Regions from separate parts of the Homo sapiens genome. Here region 2 is linked to region 1. Evidence: fine-mapped expression QTL. A gene starts in region 1. The other region holds a variant in brackets. All regions are shown on one strand. Distances are from middle to middle.

Region 1 (4,255 bases):
CTGGGAGCCTCTTGCACTGTCTGTGCCACTACAAACCTTTACCTCTCAGGGCCCAGAGGAACTGGGCACCAGAACGGCTGACTGAAAGGGAAGAGAGGATGATACCTAGGTTTGATTTGTCCTTTGGGTACCACAATTCCCACATTTTCTTTAGGTCCTGCTAAATTGAAGTTTTCCCTGCAAATGGGTGCCCTGTAGACTCTAGAGTATCTCTACTTATTTATGAGTAGGAAGGCCGTCAGAGTGGTTAAGAATGAGCATTGGTATTGGAGAGACCTAGGTTGGAATCCTGGCTCTACTTTTTCACTTTTTGTGAAGTCCTGGGCAAAAGTCAGCCCGTTTTCCTTAACTATAAAATAGGGACATTAGTTCTAGATAGTTTCCTGATACACTGAAAAAAACACTCCATAAGCATTAATATTATCATTAGGGGGTCTGCTGGGTCAAGTGCTCCTGGGTTGCTCTTTAAAAAATCCCTCACAGTGGCAGAAGGAGGAGACAATGCCTGCCAGTCCCTGCGTCAGGTGACAGCCAGGGAAGGCACGAGGTGGGAACTGGAATTGGGACTTCTGGGCTGTAGTGGGCTATGCCCCCGTGTTTGCACAAAGTTTGTTATCAATAGCGTGAGTTCTCCCAGAATTGAGGATTCTCAGATTGCCCCAGGAGGGGGTATCTGGGATCAGATGCAGAAAATGATTATGACACATCACTATGAACAGAAATGGTGAACTAAGGGTGAGGCATGGAATTGGGACCATATCACAAAAGAGACGGAGGACACAAGTTTATAATAGTTACCATATCCACTTAGATTCCGGAGGTGAAGGACTTTCTGGTCACACCTATTCTTTCTTCCAGGACTTTTTGGAAGCCAGGGATAGAAAACACACTGGGCACACACTATACCCCTGATGGCTGGGGCTATAAAGTCTCTTCTGGGTGGTCCAGGAAGCAAGACCAGAACACATACCGCTGCTGGCCCGAGGATGATGACATGTAACTATTAAATTTTCATGGGTTTGAGGTCAAGTATCTTGTCTATTATCTTTTCTTCCCATAAACAGTAGGTGCTCAATAAACAAGCATGACAGCAGGAGAGGAAATGAGGAAAAGGCAGGATAAATAAAATACCCCTGATGAGTTCCAGGCCTCTTAATCTTGGTTCTTTCTCAATCGGTAAATATCAAATAAGGGCTCAACCGTAGTCCTGCCAACACCTCCAAAGCATCTCCATAGTCCGGATGCTAAACCACCCAGTGTCCACCAGGGGTCCTGGGATGAAGGGAGACGTGTTTCTTTCACGGTCATCATGATCGATTACTTCTTCCCTTCAAGTCCAGAGTCGCAGGCAGTGGACATAAGGCCACCTCCAGCCCTCTGCTTCCAAGGCTGGGGAGAGGCAAGGTCTCCCTTCGCCGCCGTAACCAGCCCGGGAACAGGAAGGCTGGGGAAGGTGGGGGACTCCATCAGCAAGGAAACCCTGGGGCTTCACTCTCCTACAGGCGGTCCTGCGAGCGCGGCCAAAGAGAGGCAGGGCGCTAGGGAAGGCGCGGGGACCCGGCCTCGGTGGAAGGACTTGTCCCCGGCGCAGAGGACGGGCGGGCGGCCGGGCGTGGGCGAGCGCGTAGCCGGCGTGCTCCTCCGTGCGCCCGGGCGGCGCGGGCGCGGCCGGCGATCCTGCAGAGGGAGCTGTGCGCCGGCCTTAGCGCACGCTCGGTGCCGCCCGCTCCCTCTTGCCGCCGCCGCCGCCGCTGGGCCCGCCCGCCGGGGAGGGGCTCCCGGCCTCGCAGACAGCGGCTTCCTGCTTTCTGCACGTCCTCGCCGCCGCGCCGCCAGTCCGTTTGTGCTAGCTCTGGCCGTGAGCCGGCCGCCCGCTGCCGCCGGCCGCCCCGCAGCTGCCTGCGCCCCAGCCGCGCCTCGCGGCCAGCCCGGCTAGCTCAGGTCCGCTCCCGGAGCCCGCGCCCCTCCACGCTGCCCCCTGCCTGTCCCCGGCCATGCTGTCCCTTCAGTACCCCGACGTGTACCGCGACGAGACCGCCGTAAGTATCTCTGCCTCCGCCCAGAGGGCTCCCGGGCAAAGGTGCCCAGCCTGCCTGACCCGTGGCACCCGCAGCTCCTCTTCCTGTAGGCCTTCGACCCCCGCGTCCCTCCCCTCCCCCTCGGCCTTTGTTTGGGAGAATTGGGCCGGGGGCGCGGGGCTCCTCTGCAGCGCTGGGGTCCCGCGGGCGGTCACTCTGCTAGTGCTGGCGGCGGAGCCTGTGGGCAGCGCCGCCCGGCCGCTTCCTAGAATCAATGGGGTCAAGGGCAGACGCCCGGGTAGAATGGGTGTCTTCAGGGAGTGGGAAGACAGACGGTGTCACTGCTTTTTTGACTGGCGAAGCCTCTTGCTTAAATATGGTGGTAGGAGAAAGTGTCCGCTGGGGTGTGTGTGTGTGTTTGTGTGTGTGTGTGTGTGTGTGTGTGTGTGATGTCACATTTAAAAACGAAAACAAACTTTTAAAACTTACACTTTAAAGTCCTTAGAGTTGAAGCATATTCGTTCGATTTTAAAAGGTGTGTTGAGCGCCTACCCTGTCCCAGGTCGGATGAGGCGCACTGGGCCCTGGGGATGCCAGAGACCCGGACAGAAATGGGGAAGGCGGAGCAGTGACCCCATAGTGTGGCCGTGCTGATCCATGTTTTCTTAAACAAGAAAAGGAGTTGAGAGAGGGTGAGAGGAGGTCTTAGAAGGGAGAGGGGTTGACCTTTTTCAGAATGAGTAAGTTTTGTCTAGTGGCGGAGTTGACCACCATTTGCCTAAGCTGCAGATGAACTCAAGGTAACTGTTGAGATCCAGTAGGCGGAATTCTGGGCAGACACCTTTTTTGTGTAAACGTGAATTTGACGACTTAGGAACTGGATTGCATCCACATGTTGTGGCCGTGATTCTCTTACTAATAGCTACATTTCTCAGATTACTTAAAATATAATCAGAATAAGTATGTATTTGTGTGATACAGTTTTAATGTTTTTCTGTTTACTTTCCCAATTTATGCCAGAAAGTGTTTACTTTAAAGCACGTGCTACATTGGGGTAAAGGGTGCTGACGCTTCGGAGTAAAGGACATACTGTTTTAAATTAAGACTTCCAAGTGACACTGATGCATTCATTCATGGTTTCTTTGACCAGTGGCCATCTGGTAACCATGTTTTCTCAGTCTGCTCAGCTGCTTGCTTATTAAATTTACCCTAACAGCTCAAGAAGCTCTATTCCTGTGGTTTAAAGGTTGTTTCCTTTGAATATGGGAGTAAAGTGATCCTGCTGGAATGGAGAAAGAGGCTGGACTAAATGAAAAGACCAGAGCGCTAGTTCTGGTTCTGTCATTCACTAGTTAGGTGACTTTTAGCAGCTCTTTTACCTGTTATGGGCCTTTTTTCTCATATGAGAAATATTTGGACTGACCATAGGGCTTACTTGCTTCTGCAGTAGGAATGTTGTCATTCATTCATTCATTCATGTGACAGTCTAGCTCTGCAGTGTTCCAGACTAGTAATGGGAAGCCAGGTGACTCTCTTGGTTCTGGTTCTTGAGGATCAGAATATAAAGAATTACCCATTCTGTGGTTTGATAAGTGCAGTTTTAAGTTTGTTTTTAGAGTTACTTGTTAGTTTTTCACCACTGTGGGTGCCTAAATCCTACAGTTTGTTTATTTATGTTTGATATTTCATGAAAGGTTTAAGTGAGGATTTTATGAAGACGTCTAAAAGATTATAAACAACTCGGAAGGGTATACTGTGGATTTTAATACACTCCAGTTCCTTCTCATTAAGCAACTCATGCTAACTCTAAGCCTCGTGGCCAAGGGAATGTAGCTCTGGCCCAGTCTGGATCTTGTTGTGTGGCTCCTTGATAGCTTACGGTGGAGTATCTTTTTTTTTGCATTAAGGTTTTGGTTACTAAGCCCTAGGCTTGACTTAGGTATTTGCTTAAATGGTAGCCTTTGATTTCTAGGATGGGTTTGTTTCTCCCCAGCATCAGCTGGGCATTGCGGTAGCTCTCTGTCTCTTTCACTTGAGCACCTTCAGCCATATGCTCAGTACTCTCCTGCTGAAAGCTTTGGAGCGTTGAGACCATTTTGGTGGAGTTCTGCCTTTTTGGGCAGAAATTTGGAAGCCATGACACTTCTTGTGCAATACCATCGACCATTGCTTAAGAGAGTTGCTATCAGGAAATTCAGGCCTGTCACAGGGGACTCACACTCTGATAGAAGAGGATT
Region 2 (4,255 bases), 89 kb after region 1:
ACATAAAAGTTCAAGGTGAAGCAGCAAGTGCTGATGTAGAAGCTGCAGCAAGTTATCCTGAAGATCTAGCTAAAATAATTGATGAAGGTGGCTGTACTAAAACATTTTCAATATAGGCAGAACAGCCTTCTGTTGGAAGAAGATGTCATCTAGGACTTTCATAGCTAAAGAGAAGTCTGCCTGGCTTCAAAGTTCCAAAGTTTCAAAGTTCCAAAGTTCCAAAGGACAGGTTGATTCTATTAGGGGCTAATGCAGCTGGTGATTTTAAGTTGAAGCTAGTGCACATTTACCATTCTTAAAATCCTAGGGCCCTTAAGAATTGTGCTAAATTAGCTGGGCACAGTGACTCATGCCTGTCATCCCAATGCTTTAGGAGACCAAGGCAGTAGGAACTCTCGGGCCAGGAGCTCAAGATGAGCCTGGCAATGTGGTGCAATCCCATACAAAATTTATCTACAAAAAATTTAAAAATTAGCCAAGCATGGTGGCATGTGCCTGTAGTTCTAGCTTCTCAAGAGGCTGAGACAGGAGGATCACTTGAGCTCAGGGGTTCAAGGCTTCAGTGAGCCATGATTGCACCAGTGCACTCCAGCCTGGGCGACAGAGCAAGACTTTGTCTCTTCAACAGAAACGAAAAAACAAACAAAAAAAGAATTGTGCTAAATTCACTCTGCGTGTGCTCTAGAAATGGCCTGGATGACAGCACATCTGCTTACAGTGGTTTACTGAATCTGTTAAGCACACTGTTGAGACCTACTGCTTAGAACAATTCCTTTCCAAATATTTACTGCTCATTGACAATGCACCTAGTCACCCAAGAGCTCTGATGGAGCTGTACAAAGAGATGAATGTTGTGTTTATACCTGCTAACACAATATCCATTCTGCAGCCCATGGATGAAGGAGTAATTTTGACTACATTTGTAAGGCTGTAGTTGCCTTACAAATGGATGGATCTGGGCAGAGTAAATTGAAACCCTTCTGGACAGGATTCACCATTCTAGATGCCATGAGGAACATTTATGATTCATGGGAGGAGGTCAAAATATCAACATTAACATGAGTTTGGAAGAGGTTGATTCCACCCTTCAGGAATGACTTTGAGGGATTCAGGACCTCTATGGGGGAAGTCACTGCAGATGTGGAAATAGCAAGAGATCTAGAATTAGAAGTAGAGTCTGAAGATGTGACTGAATTGCTGCAATCTAATGACCAAATTTGAATGGATGAGGAGTTGCCTTCTTGTGAATGAGCAAAGAAATTGGTTTCTTGAGATGGAATCTATTCCTGCTGGAGATGCTGTGAACATTGTTGAAATGACAACAAAGAATTTAGAATATTCCATAAACTTTGTTGATAAATCAGTGGCAGGGCTTGAGAGGCTTCACACCAGTTTTGAAAGAAATTCTACTGTGAGCAAAATGCTATCAAACAGCATTGCATGTTACAGAAGTCTTTCATGAAAGGAGGAGTCAACCAGTGGGCAAACTTCATTGTTGTTTTAAGAAATTGCCACAGCAACCCCATCCTTCAGCAACCACCATCCCAATCATCAGCAGTCATCAACATTGAGGCAAGATACCCCTCCACCAGAAAAAAGATTACAACTCACTGAAGACCCAGATGATCATTAGCATTTTATAGCAATAAAGTGTTTTTAAATTAAGGTAGGTACTTTTTTTTAAGACATAATGCTATTGCTTTGTACACTAGTGTAAACAGCTTTTATATGTACTGGGAAACCAGAAGTGGGTGTGACTTTCTTCTTTTTTGATACTTGCTCTATTATAGTGGCCTGGACCTGAGCTACAGTATCTATGAGGTGTGCCTGTATAGACACACACTTAGATTTTTATTTAAGTCTTAGTGTTGGTCACCATGTGGCAGCTTGAACCCCCACTTGAAATATATTCAGAAATAAAATAAAACTTTATTTACTCTTTTGCTTTTGTCATCTTATCTCTGGTTGACTTCTCTCAGGATCATATTCAGGGATTGGCATTCATGCCAACGCTGGCACCAGCCACCTTCTAACTCAAATTCAGAAGAATATTCACAGATCTGTTTTGGAAATTGTAGCCCAAGACCTCTGCCCCTTGTGCGGTGAGTCTGGATGGCCACTTCTGTACTCATAAAAGCAGGTGATTTTTCTACCTGCAGGGTTACATCTGTCCCAGTGTCTCTCACCCTATTTCTGCCTCCCTAATAGGTGATGGTAGACAATTAATAGGATTAGCAGGCCATCTAGAAACACAACTGTGATCATTGTTTAGATTTGCTCTGCCTAGAGAAGGCTTGGCAGAAAAGAGTTGGGGGTAATCTTTTCCTGCTTTTCTTAAAC[C/T]CCCGGGGCAACATTTTAGTTTGCCAGCAAAACTCAACTGTTTTTGGCTTTCTGCCATACTGTTTTAGAACAAAAGGAGAGGAGAGACAATAGGAGCTTCGTGTGGGCTGTCCACCTGCTACACAGATTTCTTCCCTCCCCTCCCCTCCACTTGCTTTGCCTGGAGTTACACTGATGGTCGACGGGTGATGGGTGAGTAAAAATAGACCCAGTGCTGGGGATATTCCATTATCTCCCTAAAGGAAAAACCATTACTGGCATTACTGTCATTGGTCTGTGAAGGAGGGAGGAAAAAATTTCCATCTCCACAAGTGTAGTCTTTTGATTTGGATTAAGTGTACCTTGACCTGGTTTTAGGGAGGTAGACTGGATTATTCTCTGTTCACCCTCTGTGCTGACTCAATGTAAGATATAGACAGAAATGTTGTCATAGTTATAAAAATGGTAGTAAAATATTGTGAAGTGGAAGGCATTGTGAGGGTACCTCATAGAAACACATGCAAGTTCCTTGTCATTGTCTGTGTTGGGTACATGCTCCTCCACACAACTTTTGATGCTCTTCTTCATACAGCCGCGCCCCAGTGCCGCCCCGTAGCCCCGGACCACCATACTCAGACTCACCTCTGCCTCGTTTCTCCATGACCCATCCTGGTTCTGCTCATTTTTCTTTACTATTTTCTGAAATTCCACACATCTTTCAATATTCATCCAAACGCCAACTGTCCTGTAGAAGCTTGTCTTCTTGCTCCTGCCCCTGGGAGCTCAGTGTAAAGCAGAAGACGGGGAAAGAGGACATTCAGCTGTTAGTTGAAAATACAGCATGGATGTGTGCTCATGTTCTTCGTACATAAACTCATTGCTTCAAAGTTGAATTGCCCTGAGAAGTGGTGCTGGCTTCTCTGATCAGGCTGTCACAATTAAACAGTTGAGTACTCTGAGGTAGTTAGTTCTGGGTCTTCATGCAGAAATTGATATAAAACACTGTGGCTTTGTTAAGACACTAGAGAAAGCTTCATCATTTATGTTGGTTCATGTCTCAAAAGAAAAATTTAAACCATCTTCTCAGGCTGAATTGACAAATGCAGCCCATTTTAATTCTGTCTTTAAGAGCATCTACCAGTTAGTTCTGAATCAAGTAATAGATGACTCTTTGTTTCCTCCTAGCCTCTATGTGTGTACATTTGTATACATATGCCTGTATAGAAGTAGCCATAAACATTAATATATGCATACAAGCATGTCTTTAAACAGCATGCTTTTTTGATCTCAGTTCAGGTAGAGGGTGATTGTGAAATTGGCTTTCAAATAGAAAATCATTTAGCCTGCAAGTAAAAAATCATTATATATGTGCTACCTACATCTGGAGCCTCAAGTTTTCTGTTTTGCCTAGGATATATCTAATTCAATTCCAGAATTTAATATGTATATAGCTAATTTAAGTATTTGGAAGAGACTTAGAAAGAGTATAATCTGAACTGTGGATGGCATGTTGTTTAAGAATCTGCAGATTTGATTGTGTTTGGAAATGCTTTGACACCATTGCTCAGAATCCTTAGAAATAAGAGCAACGAAGGAGTGTTCTGGGATTCCTAAAGCTCACCTGTTTGGATTTACAATTCATTTATGTCTATGTATGGCTGCCTTTCCTTGCCTTCATCAGAAATTCTCTGTCAGCATTGATGGGTGGAGGTGGGATGGGGAAGAACCCCTTTCATTCATCCCGTCAGTTTGTTTTTATTGAGAATTTGCCATGTGCCAAGCATTGTTGTAAACACTGGGAATGTAGCAGCGACGTGAAGAGATGTTGTCTTTGCCCTTATGAGAAATACAGGCAAAAACAAGTGAACAGAAAATAAATGTCAGCATTGCAAGTTGGGAGAAGAGCTGTGCATGAAATAAACAAAGACTGCAGCCG

What was found. PIP is the estimated chance that this variant, and not a neighbour inherited with it, causes the effect.
Region 2: its variant is the best candidate, but not a certain one, in a credible set for the expression of PREP in whole blood (INTERVAL, PIP 0.67).

Annotation. Positions count from the first base shown.
Region 1 is chr6:105,400,631-105,404,885 of GRCh38, reverse strand. It overlaps PREP (prolyl endopeptidase), which reads left to right and starts at 1,804. Exons shown (of 15, transcript NM_002726.5): 1 at 1,804-2,039. The coding sequence starts at 1,995. RefSeq lists a silencer at 1,527-2,096.
Region 2 is chr6:105,311,547-105,315,801 of GRCh38, reverse strand. All of the region lies in intron 10 of PREP (prolyl endopeptidase), which reads left to right. Among named protein-coding and RNA genes, the nearest start is that of PREP-AS1, 35 kb to the right of the region's middle. The variant C/T (reference allele first, on the strand shown) is at 2,341.